Linked DNA regions of Homo sapiens: region 2 is linked to region 1. The links come from fine-mapping of genetic effects on gene expression. A gene starts in region 1. The other region holds a variant in brackets. All regions are shown on one strand. Distances are from middle to middle. Region 1 holds the start of ASL (argininosuccinate lyase). Region 2 has its middle 15 kb from the start of TPST1.

The links. PIP is the estimated chance that this variant, and not a neighbour inherited with it, causes the effect. A credible set is the group of variants that fine-mapping cannot tell apart.
Region 2: its variant is the best candidate, but not a certain one, in a credible set for the expression of ASL in NK cells (Gilchrist 2021, PIP 0.77).

The regions. Positions count from the first base shown.
Region 1 is chr7:66,073,110-66,078,480 of GRCh38, reverse strand. It overlaps ASL (argininosuccinate lyase), which reads right to left and starts at 2,662. Exons shown (of 17, transcript NM_000048.4): 1 at 2,625-2,662; 2 at 2,388-2,442. The coding sequence starts at 2,399. RefSeq lists an enhancer at 2,112-2,391 and a silencer at 2,492-3,021.
Region 2 is chr7:66,187,264-66,192,634 of GRCh38, reverse strand. No RefSeq gene overlaps it. Among named protein-coding and RNA genes, the nearest start is that of TPST1, 15 kb to the left of the region's middle. The variant T/AAT (reference allele first, on the strand shown) is at 3,263.

The DNA of each region.
Region 1 (5,371 bases):
GATAGGACATGCTTCAGCTCCACTCCTGGTTCCTGTATGCACCCCAGAGACCTCTCCAGTGCTCTGGCCCTGAGCTGTGAGCTGACTCCTCTATGCCCAACAGTCCCGACTGCCAAAGGACTCTGCCCTGCAGAGGCAGCCTCCGCCCCCACCCCATCTTTGAGCTGGTCCTGCCCCTTACCCCACAGCTGCCCCACCAAGCCTAGATCTCCAGCAAAGCACCACGTGGGGCCCTGGTCCTGATCACTGGAGCCAGCCAGTCAGAATTGGGGCCAGCCTGCCCCTCAGCCAGGAGCCTGGCACCGCCTCCCCCAGCGGGCTCCTGGGCCACCCTGCCTAGGTTGTTAGTAATAAAAATAACTACTTAATAAGTGGAGCTGCAGCCAAACCAATTAGTGCCAACCTACAGGAAGGCCTGGGGCAACCTGAGGTCACCTAGAACACTGGGCTTGTTGGAAGCCAGACCACTCTGCTCTAGAACCAAACTCCTATCCTTACTGGCAGGCATAAGAGGACCCCACAGGGAGATCAGAGTGAGGTGCCTCCCCTTGGGCACTGAGGAGAGTGGAGGCCTAGTGTGGTAGCAGAAGGTGCTACTCCAAGCCAGGACACATCTGGGCCAGAATGGTCTCTTCAGGGCCAGGGGATGGGGCACTGAGTTGGGCTGGGTTGAATGAGCAACAGTTAAGGTCGAATGTACATGGGAAATACCAGTTTTGGTTTTGGGACTTGTGGGTTTTTTTTCTTTTTTTGAGGTGGAGTCTTGCTTTGTCGCCCAGGCTGGAGTGCAGTGGTGCGATCTCAGCTCACTGCAACCTCCGCCTCCCGAGTTCAAGCGATTCTCCTGCCTCAGCCTCCCGAATAGCTGGGACTACAGGCACCCACCACTACACCCAGCTAATTTTTGCATTTTTAGTAGAGACGGGGTTTCACCATGTTGGCCAGGCTGGTCTCAAACTCCTGACCTCAGGTGATCTGCCCACCTCGACCTCCCAAAGTGCTGGGATTACAGGTGTGAGCCACCATGCCTGCCAGGTTTTTTTATTTTTATTTTTTTGAAACTGGATCTCACTCTGTTGCCTGGGCTGGAGTGCAGTGGTGAGATCATGCTCACTGCAGTCTCAAACTCCTGGGCTCAAGCAATCCTCATGCCTCCGCCTCCTGTGAGACTACAGGTGTACGCCACCACACCTGGGTAATTTTCAAAATCTTTTTGTAGAGACAGGGTCTCATTACATTGCCCTGGCTGGTCTGGAATTCCTGGGCTTCAGCAGTCCTCCCGCCTCGGCCTCCCAAAGTAGAAATATCAGTATTGTTGTGGTTAGCCACCATTTATTGAGCACCTACTGTTGCTCAGCCCTGTGCTAGGGATTTCACATATGTTATTACGGCCTTTTATGAGGTGGGCAATATTACCCCTATTTCACAAATGAGGAAAGAGGTTTAAAGGGCTCAAGTGACTGGTACAGAAACCAAGTCTGTTTGGCTCCAAAGTCCAGGCCCTACCCCCCTGCCATGACCCAGAAGCTTGCAGGGCACTGAGCTTGCAGGGCATTGAGAAAGAGGAAGTGAATTGCTAGCTAATGAAGGCCAAAAGGGCCTGGAACCCAGACCTCCTGCTTCCCGGAGTTCCCTTCATCAAGCATCAGGCGAACAGCCCCTCTCACCTGAAGGGTCCAAAGCAATGGCCTCATAATCTAGTGCCTTACAGAGTGAGGCCGACAGCTATTATTACCCCCATTGCCAGATAAATCAACTATGGCCCAAGGAAGGAAAACCTCTGCCTGGGAATCCAGCATCTCAGTGGTCAGGAGGAGAGGCCAGGAGCCACTGACCCTAAGAGGCAGGGTCCAGTGAGACAGGAAGGGACCAGGCACCAGGGTTGCTGGAGCCACGAGGCGACGTCCCCTTTTTCCTGGCTCTTTCCACATGCCACAGTCAAGGACAAGAACACTTAGGGGCTGAGCTTTATTCTATAAACAGGGACAATTGCTCTAGCAGGAGAAGGGATGTGGTGTGGGGTGGGACCTGACAGGAGGACACGTGGTAAGAAGGAAGGAAGAGTTGGAAGGCTGAAGGCTTGGGAGCCACTTTTCCTGGCCAGGCAGGCATCACTGTGAGGTGAGGGCAGAGCCACTCTACCCCTAGTAGTGTGGGTTGGTGGGTTTGCCACAAGGGCTGCCTGCGGATACTGGTGAGTCCTGGTAAAGGTGACTGCTGGGCTCCAGATGATGCGCCCGGGAGGGCTGGGGGTGCAGGCTTCCTAGGTAATTTTCAAAATTGCTTCCTGGAGGGCGATTCCCAGCAGGGTGGCCCGAGGCAGGTCTGGCGCCCCCACTCTCTCCTTTGGAGGCTAGGAGGACCGGAGTCCCCGAGGTCCCACTCACCTCCGAGGCCATGTTGGGCGGTTCCTCGTCGTCCGGAAGCTTCGGTCCTCCGGGTCTGGAAGACAAGACCGGACTGACGACCTCCTTGGCCAGCAGGGTCCCCCGGGCCGGGCTGGCTCCGAGTTCTGGGCACTGCGCTTGAGGGAGCGCAGCCCTTGGGGACGCGGACGTGAGCGCGCGCCACGGTGCTCGGCGTCCTCCACGCCCGTCCCGCCCATCCGGCCGCCGCGCACTCACCTCCGCCTGGCCGCACGGATAGTGTCGCGCCCGCCACTGGCCAGGGCTTTTCTGGCCGGGATGGCGTCAGCAGCCGCCGGTCCTGTCCCCACCCCTGGCGACGGCCGCGCCAATAGGAGGCCGCCCGGCGGGGTGGGCGTTGCCTCCATCCTCCAATCCTGGCCGTGGGCGGGGATACCTCCCGCTGAGCTGGAGGCTAAGCGGCCCCGGGGCGGGGAAGCGGGCGGGGAAAGGGTTGGGGGGACCCCGACGGGGAAGGGGCCTGGGCTGGGGTTGAGGAGGGTAGTGCGCTGGCGTTCGTGCTGTGGTCAGCAGACACGCAGGGGACTGGAGACTCGGGCCAGGGGTAGAGGCTATGACATCAGGCCCGGGCCTGGCAGGTTCACAAGATATATAAGGTGAAATGGCATGTTCGCTCATTCACTCATTCATTCATTCATTCAACAAACACGTACCAGGCACCTCTATGTGCCAGGTACAGAGAAAGGCATCAAGGAAAAAGGAAGGACCATCAGAAATGAAGCCTGTGCCAGGCGCGGTGGCTCACAGCTGTAATCCCAGCACTTTGGGAGGCCGAGGTGGGAGGATCGCTTGAGGCTACGAGTTGGAGACCAGCCTGGGCAATACAACAAGATCCCGTCTCTACAAAAAAATTAATAATAATAAAAAAAAAGCCGGGCGTGGTGGTGCACGCCTGCAGTCCTAGCTACTCAGGAGGCTGAGGCGGGAGGAGCACTTGAGCCCAGGAGTTCGAAGCTGCAGTGAGCTATTGTGCCACGGCACTCCAGCCTGACTCCTCTAAAAAAGAAAAGAAACGCGGCCGGAGGCCGGGCGCGGTGGCTCACGCCTGTAATCCCAGCACTTTGGAAGGCCGAGGCGGGTGGATCACGAGGTCAGGAGTTTGAGACCAGCCTGGCCAAGGTGGTGAAACCCCGTCTCTACTAAGAATACAAAAATTAGCCGGGCACGGTGGCGGGTGCCTGCAATCCCAGCGACTCCGGAGGCTGAGGCAGGAGAATCTCTTGAACCCGGGAGGCGGAGATTGCAGTGAGCTGAGATGGTGCCATTGCACTCCAGCCTGGGTGACAGAGCAAGATTCTGTCTCAAAAAAAAAAAAAAAAAAAAAAAGAAAGAAAGAAAGAAAGAAAGAAAAGAAAAGAAAAAAGAAACGCAGCCGGGCACAGTGGCTTACGCCTTTAATCCCAGCACTTTGAGAGGCTGAGGCGGGCGGATCACCTGAGGTCAGGAATTCGAGATGAGCCTGGCTGACATGGTGAAACCTTGTCTCTATTAGCCGGGTGTGGTGGTGGGTGCCTGTAGTCCCAGCTACTCCGACAGCTGAGGCAGGAGAATCACTTGAACCAGGGAGGTGGAGGCTGCAGTGAGCTGAGACGGCACCACTGCACTGCAGCCTGGGCGACAGTGAGACTCTTGTCTCGAAAAAAAAAAAAAAAAAAGAAAGAAAGAAAGAAAAAGAAAAAGAGAAGAGAAAACAAAGAAAGAAACGAAACAAAAGAAATGAAGCCTGACTTCAAGAAGTTCCAACATAGCATGGAGGAGGTGTGCAGGGAGCACAGGCGTTGGGGAGGGGGGCTATGTTGGGTACTCAGGGAAGAGGTCCTTGATCTGATTAATTAATTATTCAACCAAAATGTCAGGCTGGATTCTAGGCACTGGAAGTACCCTGAAGGGGCTTCTAATGAACCTGTCTTCTGCATTGGGTCTTGGAAGATGGGGGGAATTTGCCCAGGGAAGAAGGGGAGAACATTCCAGGCAGAGGGAGAAGTCTGGACAAAAAATGTGACTGGCCTGCTTTAAGAACAGGAAATCATCCAAGTGGCTGTAACTATAACAAAAGGTAGGGAGGAGAGGTGGAAGGAGTTTGGGAGAAGGCTGTGAAGAGTCTTCAATGTCAAGAGAGGGAGTTTGTTCTTGGTCCTATAGGTCATAGGAAACCCCGATCGATTTTAAAATCAGAGGAGCCAAATTTATTTTATTTTATTTTATTTTTATTTATTTTTTTGAGATGGAGTTTCGCTCTTATTGCCCAGGCTAGAGTGCAATGGCACGGTCCCAGCTCACTGCAACCTCTGCCTCCCAGGTTCAAGCGATTCTCCTGCCTCAGCCTTCCAAGTAGCTGGGGTTACAGGCATGCACCACCACGCCTGGCTAATTTTATATTTTTAGTAGAGATGGGGTCTCTCCATGTTGGCCAGGCTGTTCTTGAACTCCTGACCTCAGGTGATCTGCCCGCCTCAGCCTCCCAAAGTGCTGGGATACAGGGGTGAGCCACTGCGCCCGGCTGAAACCCCATGTTAAAAAAGAAAGAAAGGAAGGAAGGAAGATAAATCTAGCTATAGTATTGAGGATGGAATGGAGGGAGAAGAAGAGACCAGTGGCTGGAATGTTTTGTGATTTGAAGGTGTTTAGCCCTCACTCAACTCAAGAGTGGAATTACTTGGAGTTCCCAGAATGCACCTGACTGTTTCAAGCCTTCCTAAATGCTCTTCCCTGTGCCTGGGATGCCCTTCCCTCAGTGTCGGTCTTGCCACCTCCCATTCGTCCATCAGTATTTTTTTTTTTTTTGAGACGGAGTCTCGCTCTGTCCCCCAGGCTGGAGTGCAGTGGCACAATCTCGGCTCAATGCAAGCTCCACCTCCTGGGTTCACGCCATTCTCCTGCCTCAGCCTCCTGAGTAGCTGGGACTACAGGCGCCCACCACCACGCCCAGCTAATTTTTTGTATTT
Region 2 (5,371 bases), 110 kb before region 1:
TTTTTTTGAGACAGAGTCTCGCTTTGTTGCCCAGGCTGGAGTGCAGTGGGCGCAATCTCAGCTCACTGCAAGCTCCCCGCCTGCCGGGTTCATGCCATTCTCCTGCCTCAGCCTCCCGAGTAGCTGGGACTACAGGCGCCCGCCAGCACACCCAGCTAATTTTTGTATTTTTTTAGTAGAGATGGGGTTTCACCTTGTTAGCCAGGATGGTCTCGATCTGACCTGGTGATCTGCCTGCCTCGGCCTCCCAAAGTGCTGGGATTACAGACGTGAGCCACCGCGCCCGGCCCAGTTCACTTTATTCTATATCTCTGTTACCTATAGACAAAAAGCCCTATGGTTCGTGTTTGTTTTTTACTTTTTACTTTTTTTTTTTTTTGAGACAGATTCTTGTTCTGTTACCCAGGAGGAAGTGCGGTGGTGCTATCTCGGCTAACCAACCTCCGCCTCCTGGGTTCAAGCGATTCTCCTGCCTTAGCCTCCCAAGTAGCTGGGATTACAAGTGTACACAACCATGCCTGGCTAATATTTGTACTTTTAGTAGAGACCAGGTTTCACCATGTTGGCCAGGCTACTCTGGAAACCCTGACCTCAGGTGATCCACTTGCCTCGGCCTCCCAAAGTGCTGGGAGTATAGGCGTGAGCCACCGTGCCCAGCCTTGTTTTTTACTTTTTTTTTTTTTTTTGGGACTGGGTCTCACTCTGTTGTCCAGGCTGGAGTGTGGTGGTGTAGTCTTGGTTCACTGCAGCCTCCACCTCCTGGGCTCAAGCAATCCTCCCACCTTAGCCTCTAGAGTAGCTGGGACTACAGGCACATGCCACCACACCTGGCTTTTTAAAAAAAAATTTAGACTGGGTGTGGTGGCTCACGCCTGTAATCCCAACACTTTGGGAGCCTGAGGAGGGTGGATCACCTGAGGTCTGGAGTTCGAGACGAGCCTGGCCAACGTGGTGAAACCCTGTCTCTACTAAAAATACAAAAATTAGCCAGGCATGGTGGCATGTGCCTATAAATCCCAGCTACTTGGGAAAATTTTTTTAATAGAGACCGGGTTTCACTATGTTGCCCAGGCTGTTCTCAAACTCCTGAGCTCAAGGGATCCTCCTGCCTTGGCCTCTCAAAGTGCTGAGATTACAGGCATGAGCCATGGCACCCAGACTTGTTTTTATTTAAAACCTTATTTTGAAAAAAATTTAAACATAGAAAAAAATTGTGAGAATACCATGAACTCCAATATCCATACAATTCACCAAGTGTCCAACTGTTGATTCACCAATTAACATTTGCCTCATTTGCTTAATCTCTCTATATATACAGATAGGTTATTATGTTTAATGTTATTGAATCATTTGAAATTACAGACACCGTCCTCTGTCCCTTTACTCCTAAATACTTCATTGGTGTCTCCTAAAAATGAGAACATTCTTGGCCAGGCTTGGTGGCTCATGCCTGTAACCCCAGCACTTTGGGAGGCTAAGGCACGAGGATTACCTGAGGTCAGGAGTTTGAGACCAGCCTTGCCAACATGGTGAAACCCCATCTCTACTAAAAAATACAAAAATTAGCCAGTACGGTTGTGGGCACCTGTAATCCCAGCTACTTGTGAGGCTCAGGCAGGAGAATTGCTTGAACCTGAGAAGCAGAGGTTGCAGGGAGCTGAGATCGAGCAACTGCACTCCAGCCTAAGGGACAGAACAAGACTGTCTCTCAAAAAAAAAAAAAAAAAAAAAAAAGAACATTCTCTTATACAATGATCAAATGAAGGAAATTTAACATCGCCATGACACAGACACTGTTATCTACTATACAGTCCATAGTGCAATTTCCCTGATTGTTTCAATTATGTCCTTTATAGCAAGATGTGTTGCAGTTAGCTGTCGTGCCACTTTAGTCTCCTTTAATCTGGAACATTTCCTCTCTCTTTCTGGCTTTCATTCTAGAAGTACACAAGTTATGTGCCCCAGAAGTGTGTTGTAACTTTCCCGGGTGTCAGTCGTTTCAGGAGCCCATGAGGTCTGTTTGTTCCAATAGTGGGACGTATTGATCATTTGGTTAAAGAGAAATTCACCAGTTTTCTCCCCTGCAAAGTTAGTTTTTCTTTTGTGATAAATAAGTAATCTGTTGGGAGATACTTCATGACTGTGGAAATATCCTGTGCCCCATCTGACGATGATTCCAGCCTGGTCCTGTTGTACTTGCCAGTCATTCAAGGAAAGTGCAGCTGGCTGGTGCCCAGGCTGGGAGGCGCTGGAGGTGGCAGAGCCAGGCTGGGCAGAGAAGGAAAAGCAACCAGGACAAGAATCTGTGCAGAGAGCAGGGAAGGCATTTGGGATGCCTCGCCGGGAGCCTTCATGCAGCTCACCAAGGGGTGGGTGGTGGACACCCCACTCCCCTTCAACGCCCACCAGGCACTTCTGGGCTACCACAATGGGGCTGGCTCTTTGCTGGGATCATGCCCTGGAGAGAGGCCAGTTTGCAAGAGGCAAAAGGAAGGCTCTTTCCCTCCTCACTCCCCAATGGCCTCTAGTGATCCCTGGTCAGGAGGTAGAGGGGAGAAAGCACCAAAGGCAGAAGTACAGTATTTGAGAGTAAATTACATTAGAGTAAATATTATCTCCAGGATATTTCCAGGGTGCAGCAAATCTGCAAGGTTCCAGACACCTGGGCCTGGCCTGGCCCCACTAGCCAGGCCCTTCCACCGGTCCCTGGCCTGTTGCTCTGCTCCCTGCAAATATCTGCTGTGCTGTTGGACACAACCCTAGGCTGGCAGTCAAGGTGGAATGGGAGTGGGGGTGGTTTGCATGATGCCCACAGGATACACACACAGTCCTAGGTGGACTGGCCGTGAGCTGCTGGAGGTGTATTGGTTTCCCAGACTGTCATAACAGATGACCACAAACTGGGTGACTTGGCACAACAGAAACTTATTCTCCCACAGCTCCGGAGATCAGAAGTGTGAAATCGCCAGGCGCAGTGGCTCATGCCTGTAATCTCAGCACTTTGGGAGGCAGAGGAGGGCAGATCACCTGAGGTCGGGAGTTTGAGACCAGCCTGACCAACATGGAGAAACTCCATCTCTACTAAAAATACAAAATTAGCTGGGCATGGAGGTACATGCCTGTAATCCCAGCTACTCGGGAGGCTGAGGCAGGAGAATACCTTGAACCCAGGAGGCAGAGGTTGTGGTAAGCCAAGATGACACCATTGCACTCCTGCCCCTGGGCAACAAAAGTGAAACTCCATCTCAAAAAAAAAAAAAAA[T/AAT]GGCTGGGGGCAGTGGCTCACACCTGTAATTCTAGCACTTTGGGAGGCCGGAAGGCGGGTGGATCACCTGAGGTCAGGAGTTCAAGACCAGCCTGGCCAACATGATGAAACCCCGTCTCTACTAAAAATACAAAAATTAGCCAGGCATGGTGGTGCATGCCTGAAATCCCAGCTACTCAGGAGACTGAGGCAGGAGAATCACTTGAACCTGGGAGGCGAAGGTTGCAGTGAACTGAGATCGTGCCATTGCACTCCAGCATGGGGGATAAGAGCGAGACTTTGTCTCAAAAAAAAAAAAAAGATAATAGCTATATAACTAGATGGACAGGTAGAGGATGGATGAATGATAGGTATATAGATAGAAGGATAAATAGATAATAGATAGATGATAAATAATAGGTATATAGGTAGATGGATAGATGATAGACGGAAGATAGGTATCTAGATAGATGGATAGATAGATGATAGATGATTGATAGATGATAGATGCATGGATGATAAGTATATAGATAGATGGATAGATAAATAGATGATGGATGGACGGATGATAGGTATATAGATAGATGGATAAATAGATAATAGATAGATGATAGGTATATAGATGGATAGATAGTTGGATGACAGATAGATGGATGGATAGGTAGATAGATGATAAGTAGATAATGAGATAGACAGATAGATAATAGGCAGGTGGATTTTTTTTTTTTTTTTTGAGACAGAATCTGTCTCTGTCACCCAGGCTGGAGTGCGGTAGTGCGATGTCGGCTCATTGCAAGCTCCGCCTCCCGGGTTCACACCATTCTCCTGCCTCAGCCTCCCAAGTAGCTGGGACTACAGGCGCCCGCCACCAAGCCCAGCTAATTTTTTTGTATTTTTAGTAGAGATGGGGTTTTACTGTGTTAGCCAGGATGGTCTCGATCTCCTGACCTTGTGATCTGCCCGCCTCGGCCTCCCAAAATGCTGGGATTACAGGCGTGAGCCACTGCGCCCGGCCATAGGTAGGTAGGTATTTTCTGTGGCTTCTGAAGCCTTCTAGTCAATTGTGTCTCGATTGGATCCTCTGGAAAAAAAAGCATCCAGACCTCAAAAACTAAGGACAGGGACTCTAGAATTTCTGAACTGATGAGTTAAAATAGCTTAGGAATGGGCTCTCAGTTGGGGAATTGCCACATGAGGACACGTTTTAATCATTAATGCTGATGCAGGCCAGATTGCTTTCCAAGAAACCCTGCCCTGTCACTTTTTCCAGCCATTCTTGTCTGAGGAGGCAGAGGAATTGAGCAAGCCTGGACTGTGAGCTGTGCCTGGGTTGGTGGCCAGAGTTTGAGCAGGGGTGTGTGCAGGACAGGGTGTGATGGTGGAATGAGCAGTTCCTTGGGTCCTCCAAGTACCAGGGAAATGCCACAACTGGACACTTCCAGAGGGACCACACTCCTCCAGGTTTGGAGGCCATGGAGAAGAATCCAGGTTCCAAATATGACCCCTTTTCCCCTGCGCTTCTGAAAAACAGCCAAGGGTCACCTTTTTCTTTCTTTTTTTTTCATGAGACAGTGTCTTGCTTTGTCACCCTGGCTGGAGTGCAGAGGCATGATCATAGCTCCCTCCAGCCTCAAACTCCTGGGCCTCCAGCCTCCCGAGTAGCTAGGACTACAAGTGTGTGCCACCATGCCCAGCTTTTTTGTTTGTTTGTTTTGTAGAGACAGGGGTCTCACTACATTGCCCAGGCTAGTCTCAAATTCCTGGCCTCAAGCAATCCTCCAGCCTTGGTCTCCGGAAGTACTGTGATTATAGGCATGGGCCACCAAGCCCAGCCAAGGATCACTTCTTATCCGATATTATATCTCAAGAAATTTTGCAATTTAAAAAATTAACTTGGTATGAGGCAGCTAAGTACCCTGTACTGTCTGATCAGGGAATCTTAACTGGGAGCTTAACCTGGAGAGATACTTCAAAATTCATAGATGACAGACCCCCTTCTCTGAAACCCTCAAATCAGATCTGAGGCCTAGACTCATGCTGTTTGAGGAAAGTCCATGGAGATTCTAACGCAAGGCTTGAACTGAGGGCCAGTGCAAAAGAACATGGCGAGAATATGGCCAGCCCACGACC